Linked DNA regions of Homo sapiens: region 1 is linked to region 2. A link means that fine-mapping ties the variant in region 2 to the expression of a gene that starts in the linked region. Tissue or cell type: whole blood. Region 2 holds a variant in brackets; the other region holds the start of a gene. All regions are shown on one strand. Distances are from middle to middle.

Region 1 (8,000 bases), 100 kb after region 2:
AACTACAGGTGCAGCTAATTTTTAAAAATATTTTGTGGAGATAGAGTCTCACTATGTTGCCTAGGCTGGTCTTGGACTCCTGGGCTCAAGTGATCCTCTTGTTTCAGCCTCCCAAAGTGCTGGGATTACAGGTATAAGCCACCATGCCTGGCCTACTAGTTGTTTTTATTTATGTTTTTTTATCTTATGTTTTTTATTTTTTAAGAAAGAAATAGGGCTAAGAGAGGGCTCTGCCCTTACAGCCTCACAGCTCTATTCACTGATTTGGAAAAATCCTGGTACCCGAGGATTAAATAATCCCCAAAAGGTCTGAGGAGGCTTTCTGCCCCCAAACGCTCATGAGAGGAGAATATGTCAGTTGATGAGCTCAGGAGTCAGAGGCTAGATGAGTGAAAAGGCTTCAGCTATGACGCTACCTGACACCTCCTGCCCCTACCACATAACTGAGAACTCCCTCTCCAAGGCAGGGATGGGTTTGCGGGAAAAATGGGCACGTAGGTCACCGGCTCTAAGATATGGTGGAGGAAGGCATCTTATGTGCATGGCGGCTGTGCACACTCCTAAACCCCCTGCTCACCTGGACATCTTGTTCTGCCAGATTATAGTCAATGATTCCAGAGTAGCTGTCACGGCCCCCCTAGGAGGAGAAACTGTTCTTAGAGGGCTCTTTGAAGGGCACCTTTTTATCTTCAGACCAACAAGCGAAGGCTGGTCTCCCCTAAAGCCCTCTCTTGTCCATTACAGGACAGCAATGCTCCCTGCTCCAGCGTGTCTCCTTGCCTGGTGAACGTGACTCCCTTCCTTGCAGGTCAGTCCTCCTCACCTTGGCCAGGGCCAACAGCAGGTCCTGCAAGATGCCACTGGTCTCAGATGTGATGTCATCCACAGCCTCCACCTGGAAATCTGGGGTGGGGTGAGGAGCTCTCTGAATCCTCCTGAGTTTTCCTAGTGTAGATATCCCCAGGACCTGCCAAATGCCTGACCCGCTATACCCTGCCAGCCCTGCTAGCCCCTGCTTGGAGTAGCTTGATGGCTGCTAATTCCCAGGATGTAAGGCACAAGTACCATCACGGCCACTCTAAAAACATCTCTAAGTTGTGAGGTGTGCAGTGGCTTCATCACCAAGCACCAACCTGCTGGGCAGGAGGCAACCATTATTAGAGTTGGGGCCAGGCAGTGAAGAAGAGCTAGGGAAACCCGTATTATAACACAAGATGGTTAGGACCTGGCACCCTCATTGGAGGTAAGGAAAAATGATATGAGAGGTGGGATATGAGGAAGGAAAAGAGCAGGAAAGGGAGAAAAAGAAAGAGAAAAGGGAAACAGATGCAAGAAGGAAGGAAGGTAGGAGAGGGATTAAGAACATAGGCCACGGCCAGGGCGGTGGCTCATGCTTGTAATCCCAGCACTTTCAGAGGCTGAGGCAGGAGATGGCTTGAGCCCAGAAGTTCGAGACCAGCCTGGACAACACAGCGAAACCCCATCTCTACAAAAAATACAAAATTTAGCTGGGCATGGTGGTGGCACACCTGTAGTCCCAGCTACTTAGGAGGCTGAGGTGGGAGGACTGATTGAGCCCAGAAGGGTCAAGGCTGCAGTGAGCCATGATGACATCACTGCACAGCCTAGGCTACAGGGCAAGACCTTGTCTCAAAAGAAGAACATAGGCCAAGATTAGACATCAAAGGAAAATTGGGGAAAGCAAGAAAAAGAGGTAGGGGTGGGGGGAAGGGGTGGTAAGATGAGGATGGGAAAAAGCCACAAATTAGTGGGTGAGACACTTGTAGCCAAGCAAGGCCAGCCATCAGGGACATGAAAGGTGACACCCATGACTCAGAGGGCAGATTCCCACCTTTTCCTCAGGCTGCAGCATGGCTGGGTTCAGCTTGGAATGTGGTGTGATGGCAGGGATGGCAAGGGGCTGGGAAGGTGACATGAGTACCTTTGGGACTGTCACTTTGGAATCTGCCTTGGAGCTCCAGATTAAGATGGTTAATCATTGCTTCTCTCTCTTTATTTGTGTGTGTGTGTGTGTGTGTGTGTGTGTGAGAGAGAGAGAGAGAGAGAGAGACATGCTCTCACTCCTGTCACCCAGGCTGGTGTGCAGTGGCAGTGGCACGATCTCAGCTCACTGCAGCCTCAACTTCCCAAGCTGGGGTGATCCTCCCACCTCAAACTCCTGAGTAGCTGGGACCACAGGCGCACACCACCATGACCAGCTGGTTTTTTTGAATTTTTAGCACAGATGAGGTTTTCCTTTATTGCCTGTGACTGGTCTTGAACTCCTGGGCTCAAGTGACCTGCCCACCTCAGCCTCCCAAAGTGTTGGGGTGACAGGCATGAGTCACCGTACCTGGCCTGCTTCTCTTTTTTTAATGATCACATCTGGGTCTCTCCCCTGAGAGACTGAGGCACTGGTGGGGGCAAGAGGAAAGACCCCAAGGGAATAGAACTTAGGCAGCCAGGTTGCCAGATAGCTCACCTATGGGGAGTACAGGAGAGGAGTGGCCTGTCCTACAGCCCCTTCTCCAGCATCTGGGACCCCTCCCTCTATATTCTTACTGTGTTTGTAGACTGCCAGGCACTCCTGCAGCTGGGGTGGGGTTCGAGTGGCAAGAATTTCAATGGCCACGTCCACAGCAGAATCTGAGGCCTACAAGAAATTGGGAGTCTACTCTCAGACTGGCCGTGTCATTAGGATGGCAGACAGAGGGGCAGACGCTGGCTGCTTCTCCTTCTAAGAAACAATATGGGACGACGAGAGGGGGACTCTCGTCTTGCAAAAGCAAGGCTGACAGCCTTCTCCCTTCCCCAGACACCCCAGCAAGTCTCCCCTCCTGCTACCTTCAGAGCTGTCCTCAATTCCTGGGCGTCAAACTGGGCTGTGGGCTGCAGCAGAGCCATCACAATCCTCTCCAGGTTGCCGGAAAGTGCTGCCTGTAGAGACTTCATCAGGTCCTACAATAAATGGTCCTCACAGCAGAGGGACGGGGGTGAGGGGAAGGGCCCCAGAAGTGTGGGGAGGTTTGGGAAGATTTGGCTGGTTTTCATCTCAGGCCCTGTTTAGCCAGGAAGCAGGGGCTGGCCTCAGCGGCTGTTGCTGTCTCTCGAGTCCTCCAGGGGGTTTCTCACCCCAGTCCACTGCTGTGGGAGGTCAGCATGGCCTCACCTGTTGGGTGCGCTCCTGGAAGTTTCGTGAGATGAGCTGCCTTTGCTCTCTGCTCCGGTTGGTCAGCACGTCCACAATGGCACTGCGGTCCACGCCTGAACCGAGATGAGGGCTGTGCTGTGAGCAGGGTCTTTACATAGTGGGATGTTCCTACTCCTTGGAGGAGGGAAGGCGCTCCAGGAGAGGGCTGGGAAGGAAAGGAGCAGGGGCTATATCACCCCCACTTCCATTTTATCTCAAAAGAAGTTGCAAATAAAATGTCAAAACAGCATGCAAATCTGACCCAGACCAAGGCAAAGGTGGCCTGGTGTGGTGGTTAAAAAAAAATACGACTTGGGGGGATCGGCTGACCTAGATGAGAATACCACCTCCGTCATGAGCTGAGTGACCTTGGGCAAGCCTCTTAATCTCCCTGAGCCCCAGTTTCCTCATCTGGAAAATGGAAATAATAAGCCTTGCCTCACAGGGGTGTTGTGAGAATGGGTTTGACACACCTACTGTGGCGCCTGACATACAAGAATGAAGGCATTCCACAAACATTTCTCCAACATCACTAGTTCCTCCTTCCTGGCTCCTCCTTGGTCTACAGATTGGCTCTAAAAGGCAGTCTCAAGTGCCGGGGGAAAGGGGCTCACCTTGGCCAGTAATGGCCCTCAGTAGCCTCTGCGCATCCTTGTCCACGCTGAAGTTCAAGAAGGTCCTGAGGGTGCCCAGGGTCCCCCACGCTGCAGTCTGTGGGAGCACAGGGTAGTTGGCAAGGGCCAGGGCCAGGCTGCCTACACCTCCTCAGCATAACCTCAGGGCCTGTCCTCCACTTTCCTGCCTCCCATCCTCTCACAGCCCGAGCTGAGATACTAAAAGTGATCTCTAAAATCCCAACAGCCCCTACCTTGCTGGCCAGGCCCAGGTGGCTGAGGATCTCCTGGGTGAGGGACGGTGCCATCTTCCCGCCAGTCACAGACATGGTGCTACTGGTTGCCCTGGGGAAGGAAACAGGAGCCCACAGAGCTGAATTTCCTGGCCCTTCAGGGACTCCTTATGACCCCCCCGAGACCCTGGACCCTGGGTTCCAGTCACCTGTTCCTTTCCTTGCTGCAGAAAAAAAGATCAACCTGCTTAGGCTTGGAGCCAGAAATGGAGCTGAAATGGTGAGGTAAGAGGGGAGCCCCCACCTTCCCCACCTCTCCCCACTCCTTTAGGAAGTGGGGATTGATGCGGAATGCTCCTGGACCAGGCGCCAACCCTCCCTGATGCCAGGGTCAGCACCAAAGCTCCTCAGGCCTTGGTCCGCGGTAGATGCCTCCCTTCTGAGGTCTATGGCCCTCCTTCCTGGGCCTGGCTGGGGTCTCCTGGGCAGTGCAGGGGAGCTGAGGTGAGGTGGCAGGATTAACCACGCAGAGTGGAAGACAACTCGAAATAGCATCTTCCCCCACCGGCAGCCCCAGCTGACAAGCAACCCTCAATTCCTGCCTGTACAGCTGCCTACCTGCTCAGCAGCACAGGAGCACAGGCCGGAATCTCTAGGTCAGCAGGTGCAATCTCTTAGCTGATGTGAGCAAGAGTTCTTGCAAGTACGTGGATGCCTGGACAGAAAGGAGGCACTCTCATGTTGGAAAAGGAAAACTCATTTTTCCCTCCCCCAAGCAATCAACAAGCCCTCCTGGCATGGGGCCGTGGGCCCAGTACTTACTCAGAGGTGCCAGAGGTGAGGTGGGTGTCGTTGTTGTGGCCTGGTAGCTTGCCTGTGTGAGCACTGCCTCCGGTGTGGCCTGGTAGAGGAAAGTGGGGGTGTGTGCAGCCTAGGCTGAACAGCCAGTCAGATGACCTCTCTTAGGGACGAACCCAGCAGTTGTCTGACTCTGGCCCCTCCCAGACGTGGGAGAGGACCGGGCTGTACAGAGTCCCACATGCAGACACCTTCCTGCCCAGCATCTCTTCTCCCAGGAACTGGGCCTCAATCCATGTGAGTGAACTCCACTCAGCCTCTCAGCGGCTCAGCCTCAAACACAGGAGGCTTTTATGCACTGCCTTCCCTGTGGGTCCAGGTGGGACCACAGAGACCTAGTCTCAAAGTCCAGCTTCTGACCTGGCTCTGCCCCAGCTTCTGACCTGGCTCTGCCTCTGGCTCCAGCTCCCTGGGGGGCAGGTCAGACAGGCTGCAGGCTGATTTCAAGGCTGATAGGGAAAAACCTGTTGGGGCACATACCAGCAGGGCACCCCAGCCTGCACCCCAGAGGGGGTCCCAGCCCAGAAACTCCCTTGACTGCTGCCTTACTAGAGCCAGCTGACCTAGGTGGAGAGTGCCCAGGGATTGTGTATATCTGTGGAGAAGGAAGGGCACAAGTATTTGGGAGTGGAAGTTGATGAACAGAGTCAAGAGAGAAAAATGCAAAGGGTGTTACCTTCAGAGGGAAGCTCTATGCTCCCAAAAGGCAACAGGGAGATGGGGGAGGCTCCCTTGCCTGGTTTCTTAGATTGCTTCTGTTGCCTTTTGGCAGCCTGGGCCCTGTGGCTGTTTTAGCTGCAGGTGATGCAACCCCAGCAGCTGGACTTGAGGCTGTCTCTGCACAGAGCAGCAGGTGAACAGCCCTGTGGAGCCCCCGCCCCGCCATGCAGCAACTGCTCCAGCCTCACAGCTGGCTCCCTCAGGTCTAAACACAGCCTCTTTCCTGCCTCCCTGGAGAGCCTGGGTAGGGGCGGGGCACAGAAGCTACAGCCCTGCCTCCACTCACTCCTCTGCCTCTCTCCCAACTCAGGAAGGCCTTCACTGGCATTCCTACATCCCTGGAGGAGGGACCTGCAGTGGCTCCACCACACTGAGTAGACCATGCCGGAGGACACGCCATGAAAGGATATTTCTGTGGCGGTAATCACTGCTCCTCACTTTTCTCTCCTGTTAAAAGGAAAACATGCACCTGTGTCAGAACTGGAGAATGAGGGTTCAATATCCAGCTCTGCCACCTATGTTCTGTAAGCTTCGCTAGTCCTTTCAGCTCTCTAAATGGGAGGATTGAGAGAGACGGAGGCTGTGGGACATGCTGGGGCCTCCGAGGACAGGTTTCCTGGGATGATTAAATGAAGTAATGTGTCCACTAAAGAACTTATCCATGTAACCAAACACCACCTTGTCCCCAAAAACTATTGAACTCATAAAAATAAATAAATAAATAAATAAATAAATAAGGTAATGTGGCCAGGCACGGTGGCTCATGCCTGTAATCCCAGCACTTTGTGAGGCCGAGGCGGGTGGATCATGAGGCAGGAGATCGAGACCAGCCTTGGCTTACACAGTGAAACCCCGTCTCTACTAAAAATACAAAAAATTAGCCGGGCATGGCGGCGCATGCCTGTAATCCCAGCTACTCGGGAGGCTGAGGCAGGAGAATCACTTGAACCTGGGAGGCAGAGGTTGCAGTGAGCTGAGATGGCGCCACTGCACTCCACAGCCTGGGCGACAGAGTGAGACTCCGTCTCAAAAAAAAAAAAAAAAAAAAAAAGTAATCTGTGTAATTGCATGTGGCAGAGAAAAGTGCCCTGTAAAGTAGGGGTATTAGATTAAATAAATAAATATACAGGACATGCAGCTTAATCAGAATTTCACGTAAATGAGGAATCATTTGTTGGTACAAGTATGACCCAAATATTTCATTAAATATACTAACATTTTTTTTTTTGAGGCGGAGTCTCTCTCTGTTGCCCAGGCTGGAGTGCAGTGGCATTATGTTGGCTCACTGCAAGCTCCACCTCCCGGGTTCAAGCGATTCTCCTGCCTCCGCCTCCCGAGTAGCTGGGATTATAGGCGCCTGCCATCATGCCTGGCTAATTTTTTGTATTCTTAGTAGAGATAGGGTTTCACCATGTTGGCCAGGCTGGTCTCGAACTCCTGACCTCGTGATCCACCTGCCTTGGACTCCCAAAGTGCTGGGATTACAGGCGTGAGCCACCGCCTGTAATTATTATTTTTTGTTTATCTGAAATTATAGTTTAACAGTGTGTCCTGTATTTCACCTGACAACCCCAAAATGGAACTCAGTCTCAGCGTGGTGGCTAAAAGCAAAGCTTCTGGAGCCAGACTTCTCAGAGTCGGGATTCTGGTCTTCTGTGTGACCTTGGGCAACTATTCTGTGCTCAGTTTCCTCATCATCAACAGACAAGTAATAGTGTTTATGTTATAGGTTGTTGTGAGAATTAAATAACTACAGTGCATATAAAGCACTTAGAAGAGTTCTGGGCACAGCGCTGTTAAGTAGAAATGTCACAATGTTATCAAATATATAACGATAAGTATTGTTATATGGTAACTGTTACTGTTGTTATTACTTACCTCCTTAAGAATTCCGATCTTGGCTCGCTTCTGAAACTTTTCTGGCCAATCCCCAAAATGGCCACAAGAGGGCGTCAGCAGCCACTGAGAGTCTCGAGCCCCCTAGTGGCCCCTTGAGGTCTCTGGCTCCAGCCCCACATATTAAGGGGCTGTCTCAGCCCACTTGGGAAGTGCAGCCTCCTGAGGACGCCAGGTTCCTGGGTGGAATTGGTATGCAGGTAGCATCAGGGGAAGAGCCTCAGGTAGATACCTACTCAGGGGAGCCCCCGAGGCTGACCTCAGACACATGCAGGAGACTGGGTGACCGCAGTTAGGCTGGGTAAACACGGTACTGCAGCTCCGCAGCCGGGGTCCCCCTGGCCCTCGGCTTTCTGTACCCTTCAGAGTTTCTTCTGGCTACCTGCCCAGCAGATTTAGGGAGAACCGAAGGAAGCGTGAGGCCTCCTGTTTCCTCACGCCGAATCTCTCCAAGGGGCTCCTGGCCGGCATGCCAGGCTGAACTCTGAA
Region 2 (8,260 bases):
AAACCCCATCTCTACTAAAAATATAAAAATTAGCTGGGTGTGGTGGAGCACGCCTGTAGTCCCAGCTACTCCGGAGGCTGAGGCAGGAGAATCGCTTGAACCTGGGAGGCAGAGGTTGCAGTGAGCCAGTATTGCGCCACTGCACTCCAGCCTGGCGACAGAGCAAGACTCCATCTCAAAAAAAAAAAAAAAAAAAAAAAAATTAGAAAACTGGCTAGGCACAGTAACCCCACACCTGTCAGTGTTGGGAGGCTGAGGCAGGAGAATTGCTTGAGGCCAGGAGTGCAAGGCCAGCCTGGGCTGGGCAATACAACGAGACCCTATTCTCTACAAAAAATAAAAACAAAAATAAATTAGCTGGGCATGGTGCTGCATGCCTGTAGTCCTCCCAGCTACTTTGGAGGCTGAGGCAGTAGGATTGCTTGAACCCAGATGTTGAAAACTGCAGTGAGCTATGATCATGCCACTGCTCTCCAGCCAGGACAAAAGAGTGAGACCCTGTCTCAAATTTAAAAAATTGTTTTAGGGCCGGGCGTGGTGGCTCACACCTATAATTCCACCACTTTGGGAGTCCGAGGCAGGCAGATCACAAGGTCAGGAGTTTGAGACCAGCCTGGCCAACACAGTGAAACCCCATCTCTACTAAAAATACAAAAAAAAATTAGCTGAGCATGGTGGTGGGCGCCTGTAATCACAGCTACTTGGGAGGCTGAGGTAGGAGAATCGCTTGAACCCAGGAGGCGAAGGTTACAATGAGCCAAGATTGTGCCACCGCACTCGAGCCTGGGCGATAGTGCGAGACTTCATCTTTTTTTTTTTTTTTTTTTTTTTTTTTTTGAGACACAGGAGTGAGCCACCGCACCCAGCTGAGAGTTCATCTCAAAAAAAAAAAATTGTTTTAATAAATTAGAAAACAGTCAGGTGCGGTGACTCACATCTGTAATCCAAGCACTTTGGGAGGCCAAGGCAGGTGGATCACCTGAGGTCAGGAGTTTGAGACCAGCCTGGGCAACATGGTGAAACCCCGTCTCTACTAAAAATACAAAAATTGGCTGGGTGTAGTGGCGGGCGCCTGTAATCCCAGCTACTCGGGAGGCTGAGGCAGGAGAATCACTTCAACCCAGGAGGCAGAGGTTGTGGTGAGCAGAGATCGTGCCACTGCACTTCAGCCTGGGCCACAAGAGCAAGACTCCTTCTCAAAAATCAAACAAACAAACAAAAAATAAATAAGAAAACAGACTCCTCATAGCCATGAAGGTTTTTTTTTTTGTTTTTTTGTTTTTTTGTTTTGTTTTGTTTTGTTTTGAGACGGATTCTTGCTCTGTTGTCCAGGCTGGAGTGCAGTGGCGTGATCTTGCCTCACCACAACCTCCGCCTCCCAGGTTCAAGCGATTCTCCTGCCTCAGCTTCCTGAGTAGCTGCGATTACAGTCGCGCACCACCACGTCCTGCTAATTTTTTTTTGCTTTTTTTCAGTAGCGATGGGGTTTCACCATGTTGGTCTGGCTGGTCTCGAATTCCTGACCTTGTGATCCACCCGTCTCGGCCTCCCAAAGTGCTGGGATTATAGGCACCCGGCCTGCCATGAAGACTCCTGGAGATGCAACTTAATGCTATAACTGTCCTAAACTTAATCATTCCCAAGTCATTTCCTAGTACCCATTTAAGTAAGAAAACAGGAAAGTGGATGCCTTTTTAACAACATAACCTTGCCCCTATTCTTGCTTTACCCGAACAAGCAGTTCCACGATGTGCGCATGTCCATCGGCTGCAGCCATGTGCAAGGGGGTCCTGTCTACTTTAGTCCGGGCATCCCTGCTAACACCTGCTCGAAGGAGTACTTCTGCTGTGGAATAATGACCATATTGAGCTGCAAGGTGGAGGGGTGATGTTCCAAGCTGTGGAAAAATAATGCTCATTGAATATCCACTGTGTGCAGAGTCCTAGATCGTTACTGGAGAGATACAAATGAACAAGCTATGGTTCTTGTCCTTCAAGAGAGAATCTGGTTGGGCAGATAAAACTGAAAAAATGCTTAAATTTACAAATTAAAGGCCAGGGGCCAGGTGCACTGGCTCACACCTGTAATCCTAGCACTTTGGGAGGCCAGGGTGGGCAGATCACCTGAGGTCAGGAGTTCAAGACTCTTCTGGCCAACATGGTGAAACCCCGTCTCAACTAAAAAATACAAAAAAAGTTAGCCAGGCGTGGTGGTGGGCACCTGTAATCCCAGCTACTCAGGAGGCTGAGGCAGGGAGAATTGCTTTGAACCTGGGAGGCAGAGGTTGCAGTGAGCTGAGATTGTGCCACTGCACTCCAGCCTGGGCGACAGAGTGAAACACCGTCTCAAAAAAAAAAAAAAATTAACATGCTAATGGACAAATAAATATACCACCAATTGAATAAGTACTAAGTATAATGGCTTTATGTCAGGTGGATTTATCAGTTAAGATTCCCTAAAGGACGTGACTTTACGCAACGTCTAGAAGGTTAAAACAAACAAAAAAAGGATCAGGCTGGATGTGGTGGCTCATGCCTGCAATCCCAGCACTTTGGGAGGTCAAGGCAGGAGGACTGCTTGAGCCCAAGAGATCAAGACCAGCCTGGGCAACACAGAGAGACCTTATCTCATAATAAATTAAAAAATAAATAAATAAAGTAAATTTTAAAAAAGAAAAAGGGTAGAGACTAGAAAGTTACATGTGGAATTTGAGGTACAAATTTGACTGACTGGAAGAAAAGTTTTTTGCCACAGTAAAGCAGGGCAAAATGAATGATGAGATGAAGACGCAATAAAAATTTAGCAATGATGTATCAACAGCAATAAGTAAGTCTGTCATCCCAGTGTAAATCTTGTAAGAGTTATCTATCAGCATCCACTTTGGCCAGAGCTCTATTCCCTTCTTTTTGTTATGCTCTTTATTTTAAGCCTGTTTAGTTTATTCTTTGCTTTTTCATATATTTAGCCTCTCTGCCTGACTGAATTTAATTCACATTGTTCTTTCCAGGTCTATTTATAGAAATGCTAATTTCATGGGTTTCCTTTTCTTTCTTTTTGTGAAATGCTAATAATCTGTTGGCCTCTCAATTAATCAGTCCAGAATAGAGGTCACTCATTCATTGAAATTGTTAAAATTAGGCAATGTGTACAAAATCTGTGACTGCTAAGAAAGCCCACATTATAACTTGGACCTGTTTCTTCTGAAAGTCTTTGGTCTCCAAGATGGTTGAGGCTAAATTACACCTTCCTCTTTAATGTTTTTTGAACAGTGGTAAAGGAAACAAAACAGCTAGATGACTTCTTTTTTTTTTTTTGAAACAGAGTTTCCAAGCTGTAGTGCAATGGTGCAATCTCCGCTCACTGCAACCTCCACCTCCCGAGTTCACGCGATTCTCCTGCCTCAGCCTCTCAAGTAGCTGGGATTACAGGCGTGCGCCACCATGCCCAGCTAATTTTTTGTATTTTTAGTAGAAACGGGTTTCACCATGTTAGCAGGCTGGTCTCGAACTCCTGACCTCAGGTGATCCGCCCGCCTTGGACTCCCAAAGTGCTGGGATTACAGGCGTGAGCCACCACGCTCAGCCTAGACAATTTCTTATTAACCAGGGCATATTAGAGAAAAGGAAACAAGGAATTTATTAGTCTAGGAATGCATTCTTATTATATTGATTTTGTTTAATTTCTAGCTAATTACAGAAGCCTATAACCCAAGTACACTCCAGAGACAGTTAAACCTTTAGAAAATACTCTAAAAAACATTATAGAAAATCACAAGTATATAATACCTTACAATTATCACCTATATATCCACAGGAGACTCTCAATTTGGAAAACTAAAAGAAAAAGAAAACCACATATTCAGATGAGACAAAGAAAATAAAACTCTTGTAAGGGATATGAGGTAGAAAGGGAGTGAAGAAAAACCAATAGTCTGTTAGCCTTTAAGAAAAATGTTGGTAAAAGCATACATTGGAAATAATTAAGAGACCTCTCCTCTAAGCTTACCCAGTCTGTGGTGAATGGGGCGCCATTTGCCATCAACGTTCTCACTTCATCATCTTGGCCTTTTCTTGCTGCTTCTAGCAACCTCTTTCCCAAGTCCACCAAAGACATCTTTATGCATAGGAACAAAAGTTTTCAGGTAGCTATAACTCGAACATAAGGAAAGCCGCCAATACATTTTTTAGAAGACTTCTTATATTTGAATGTATATAAGATACATCTCAAGTTGACTGTCTGGTAGGTCACTTC[C/T]TTTCTACCTCGTCTAACACAAACAATAAAATATTTGGGAATGTTTCAAGCCCTAATACATAGTTCTATCACTTTCAATCCCCAGAAAAATACTCTGGAAATATCTGCAACACACTACGACCTTTCTAGTTTAAGGAATCGATAAAACACCATTTCATTCCCCTGAAATGAAGAAGGGTACAATATTATTTTAAGGAACATAATATAAAATAATAAAGTATGTACTTTGATCTCCAGGAAGGGAGCAAGGTGGATGCCCATCTGTGAAACTACTGCTTGATGGAAATTATGAGAGCCCTTATTAGCAACTAACTGCTCTCTCTGGAGGTTTGTAGGTCTTTGGATAGCACAATGAAACAGGACACATCAAGGTTTCCAAATAAAACTGTAACTCTCTTTTTTTTTGAGACTAAGTCTCGCTGTATTGCTCAGGCTGGAGAGCAGTGGTGTGATCTTGACTCAGTGCAACCTCTGCCTCCCGGGTTCAAGCAATTCTCCTGCCTAAGCCTCCTGAGTAGCTGGGATTACAGGCACCCGCCACCATGCCTGGCTAATTTTTGTATTTTTAGTAGAGATGGGGTTTCACCATGTTGGCCAGGCTGGTCTTGAACTCCTGACCTCAAGTGATCCACCCACCTCAGCCTCCCAAAGTGTTGGGATTACAGGCGTGAGCCACTGCGCCCGGCCCAAACTACATCTTAATCTAGTTTTTATCTTCTGACTATCGTGTAATCATATAATCATGCTTAAAATTTAAGGAGACAAAGAGGGGTGCAGTGGCTTGGGACTGTAATCCCAGCACTTTGGGAGGTCAAAGTAGGAGGATTACTTGAGCTCACGAGTTTGAGACCAGCCTAGGCAAAATGGCGAAACCGTCTCACAAAAAATACAAAAATTGGCTGGGCGCGGTGGCTCACGCCTGTAATCCCAGCACTTTGGGAGGCCAAGGCAGGCAGATCACCTGAGGTCAGGAGTTTGAGACCAGCCTGGCCGACATAGTGAAACCCTGTCTCTACTAAAAATACAAAAATTAGCCGGGCGTGGTGGCACATGCCTGTAGACCCAGCTACTTGGGAGGCTGAGGCAGGACAATTGCTTGAACCTGGGAGGTGGATGTTGCAATGAGCTGAGATCGCACCACTGCACTCCAGTCTGGGCGACAGAGCGAGACACTATCTCGAAAAAATAAAAAATATATATACAAAAAAATACAAAAATTAGCTGGGCATGGTGGTACGTGCCTATAGTCTCAGCTACTCAGGAGGCTAAAGTGGGAGGAAAACTTGAGCTCAGGAGGTGGAGGTTGCAGTGAGCTGAGATTGCACCACTGCACTCTAGCCTGGGCAACAGAGCCAGATCTTGACTCAAAAAAAAAAAAAAATTAAGAACAAGCTTTCACTGATTAAACACTGATCTCGTTAGGCCAGTAGCTCAACAAATATGGTTTATGGACCCCTGGTGGTCCCTGATGCCTTTTTAGGGAACTATGAGGTCAAAACTATTTTTGTTATAATACAAAAACATTATTTGCCTTTTTTCTTTTTCCATGTTTACATTAGCACTAACGGTGCAAATCCAACAGTGGGTATAACTGCTGGTGCCTTAGCATGAATCAAACTGTGCTATTGGTTATTGTATTCTTCACTGCCATGTAATCTCAAGGGAAAATTGCCAGTTCTACTTAGGAGTGTCCTGGATGACACAGCAAAAATTATTAATTGTATTAAATCTCAACACCTGAATATATGTGTTTATAATTTATGTGTGACAAAATGGGAAGTATACATAAAGCACTTTTTTTTTTTTGAGACAGGGTTTCACTCTGTCACCCAGGCTGGAGTGCAGTGGGCACAATCACAGCTCACTGCAGTCCTGACCTCCTGGGCTCATGGGATCCTCCCATCTCAGCTTCCCGAGTAGCTGGGACTACAAGCACACACCACCATGCCCAGCTAATTTTTGTATTTTTTGTAGAGATGGGGATTCACAATATTGTTCAGGCTGTTCTCAAACTCCTGGGCTCAAGCAATCGACCCATCTTGGCCCCACCAGTGTTGGGATTACAGGCGTGAGCCACCACACCCAGCCTCTTCTCTACCTTTTTGCCCAAATGACAATTATATTGTACCCACTATTCTGCATGATCTGTCCATAGCAATAGAATCCCAAAGTGTTGGGATTACAGGCATGAGCCACTGTGCCTATCCGACATAAAATACTTCTGCTGCTTACTGAAACATGATGGTTTTCTTGAGAAAAAGCACTACACGATTAAGTTACAAGCTAAAATAACTGCTTTTGGCCAGGCGCAGTGGCTCACGCCTATAATCCCAGTACTTTGGGAGGCCCAGGCGGGTAGATCACGAGGTCAGGAGATCAAGACCATCCTGGCTAACACGGTGAAACTCCATCTCTACTAAAAATACAAAATATATATATATATATTAGCCAGGTGTGGTGGCAGATGCCTGTAGTCCCAGCTACTCAGGAGGCTGAGGCAGGAGAATGGTGTGAACCCTGGAGGCGGAGCTTGCAGTGAGCCGAGATTGTGCCACCGCACTCCAGCCTGGGCAACAGAGCGAGACTCCGTCTCAAAAAAAAATAAAATAAATAACTGCTTTTATCATGGAACATCATTTTATTATTTTATTTTTGAGACAGAGTTTTGCTCTCATCACCCAGGCTGGAGTGCAATGGCATGATTTCAGATCACTGCAACCTCTGCTTCCCAGGTACAAGCGATTCTCCTGCCTCAGCCTCCCAAGTATCTGGAATTACAGGCACCCATCACCATGCCCAGCTAATTTTTTTATTTTTAGTAGAGAGGGGTTTTGCCATGCTGGTCAGGCTGGTCTCGAACTCCTGACCTCAGATGATCTGCCTGCCTCGGCCTCCCAAAGTGCTGGGATTACAGGTGTGAGCCACCGCGCCTGGCCATTTTATTTTATTATTTTTGAGACGGGTTCTTGCTCTGTCACCCAGGCTGAAGTGCAGTGCCGTGATCACAGCTCACTGCAGATTTGACCACTTAGGCTCAAGCAATTCCATCTCAGCCTTCCAAGTAGCTGAGACTACAGGCAAGTGGCACCATGCCCAGCTAATTTTTTTTTAAATTTTTTGTAGAGACAGAGTCTGCAACATCACTTTTATATGAAGGAATGATGAATAGACCAAGGGCTCAGGTATATGGCAGGTATGTTTTTTAAAAATGAACAGCTGGCTGGGCGCGGTGGCTCACACCTGTAATCCCAACACTTTGGGAGGCAGAGGCGGGCGGATCACAAGGTCAGGAGATCGAGACCATCCTGGCTAACCTGGTGAAATCCCATCTCTACTAAAGATACAAAAAATTAGCTGGGCATGGTGGCGGGTACCTGTAATCCCAGCTACTCGGGAGGCTGAGGCAGGAGAATGGCATGAACCTGGGAGGCGGAGCTTGCAGTGAGCCGAGACTGCGCCACTGCACTCCAGCCTGGGCGACAGAGTGAGACTCCGTCTCAAAAAAAAAAAAAAAAAAAACAGCTAGGGCCGGGCGCGGTGGCTCATGACTGTAATCCCAGCACTTTGGGAGGTCAAGGCGGGCTGATCATCTGACGTCAGGAGTTTGAGACCAGCCTGACCAACATGGAGAAATCCCATCTCTACTAAAAATACAAAAAAAATTAGCCGGGCATGGTGGCGCATGCCTGTAATCCCAGCTACTCAGGAAGGCTGAGGCAGGAGAATCACTTGAACCGGGAGGGAGGTTGCGGTGAGCCGAGATCCCGCCATTGCACTCCAGCCTGAGCAACAAGAGTGAAACTCCGTCTCAAAAAACAAAACAAACAAACAAAAAAAAACAGCTGGGCACAGTGGCTCACGCCTGCAATTGCAGCATTTAGGGAGGCAGAAGTGGGAGGGCAGTTTCAGCCCAGGAGTAAGAGACTACCCGACTACCCCGGGCAACACAGTAAGGCCCCATTTCCACATTAAAAAAATATATATATTTTTTTATATATATAATAAAAAT

Which allele goes with the higher level. Alleles are on the strand shown, and positions count from the first base shown. SD is a standard deviation of normalised expression in the study named.
With allele C in place of T in region 2, the expression in whole blood of the gene that starts at base 4,947 in region 1 is lower (large effect, 1.0 SD a copy in Lepik 2017).

The links. PIP is the estimated chance that this variant, and not a neighbour inherited with it, causes the effect.
Region 1: ANXA9 starts here. The variant in region 2 is fine-mapped to the expression of ANXA9 in whole blood (TOPMed, PIP above 0.99).

The regions. Positions count from the first base shown.
Region 1 is chr1:150,979,239-150,987,238 of GRCh38, reverse strand. ANXA9 (annexin A9) reads right to left here and starts at 4,947. Exons shown (of 14, transcript NM_003568.3): 1 at 4,860-4,947; 2 at 4,656-4,752; 3 at 4,059-4,149; 4 at 3,805-3,901; 5 at 3,170-3,264; 6 at 2,845-2,958; 7 at 2,563-2,653; 8 at 824-903; 9 at 578-637. The coding sequence starts at 4,133. LOC105371438 (a long non-coding RNA gene) reads left to right here and starts at 5,734. Exons shown (of 3, transcript XR_922135.3): 1 at 5,734-5,818; 2 at 5,926-6,035; 3 at 7,153-7,281. RefSeq lists an enhancer at 3,562-4,423.
Region 2 is chr1:151,084,043-151,092,302 of GRCh38, reverse strand. It overlaps GABPB2 (GA binding protein transcription factor subunit beta 2), which reads right to left. Exons shown (of 9, transcript NM_144618.3): 2 at 4,006-4,113; 3 at 1,730-1,897. The coding sequence starts at 4,113. Among named protein-coding and RNA genes, the nearest start is that of GABPB2, 17 kb to the right of the region's middle. The variant C/T (reference allele first, on the strand shown) is at 4,252.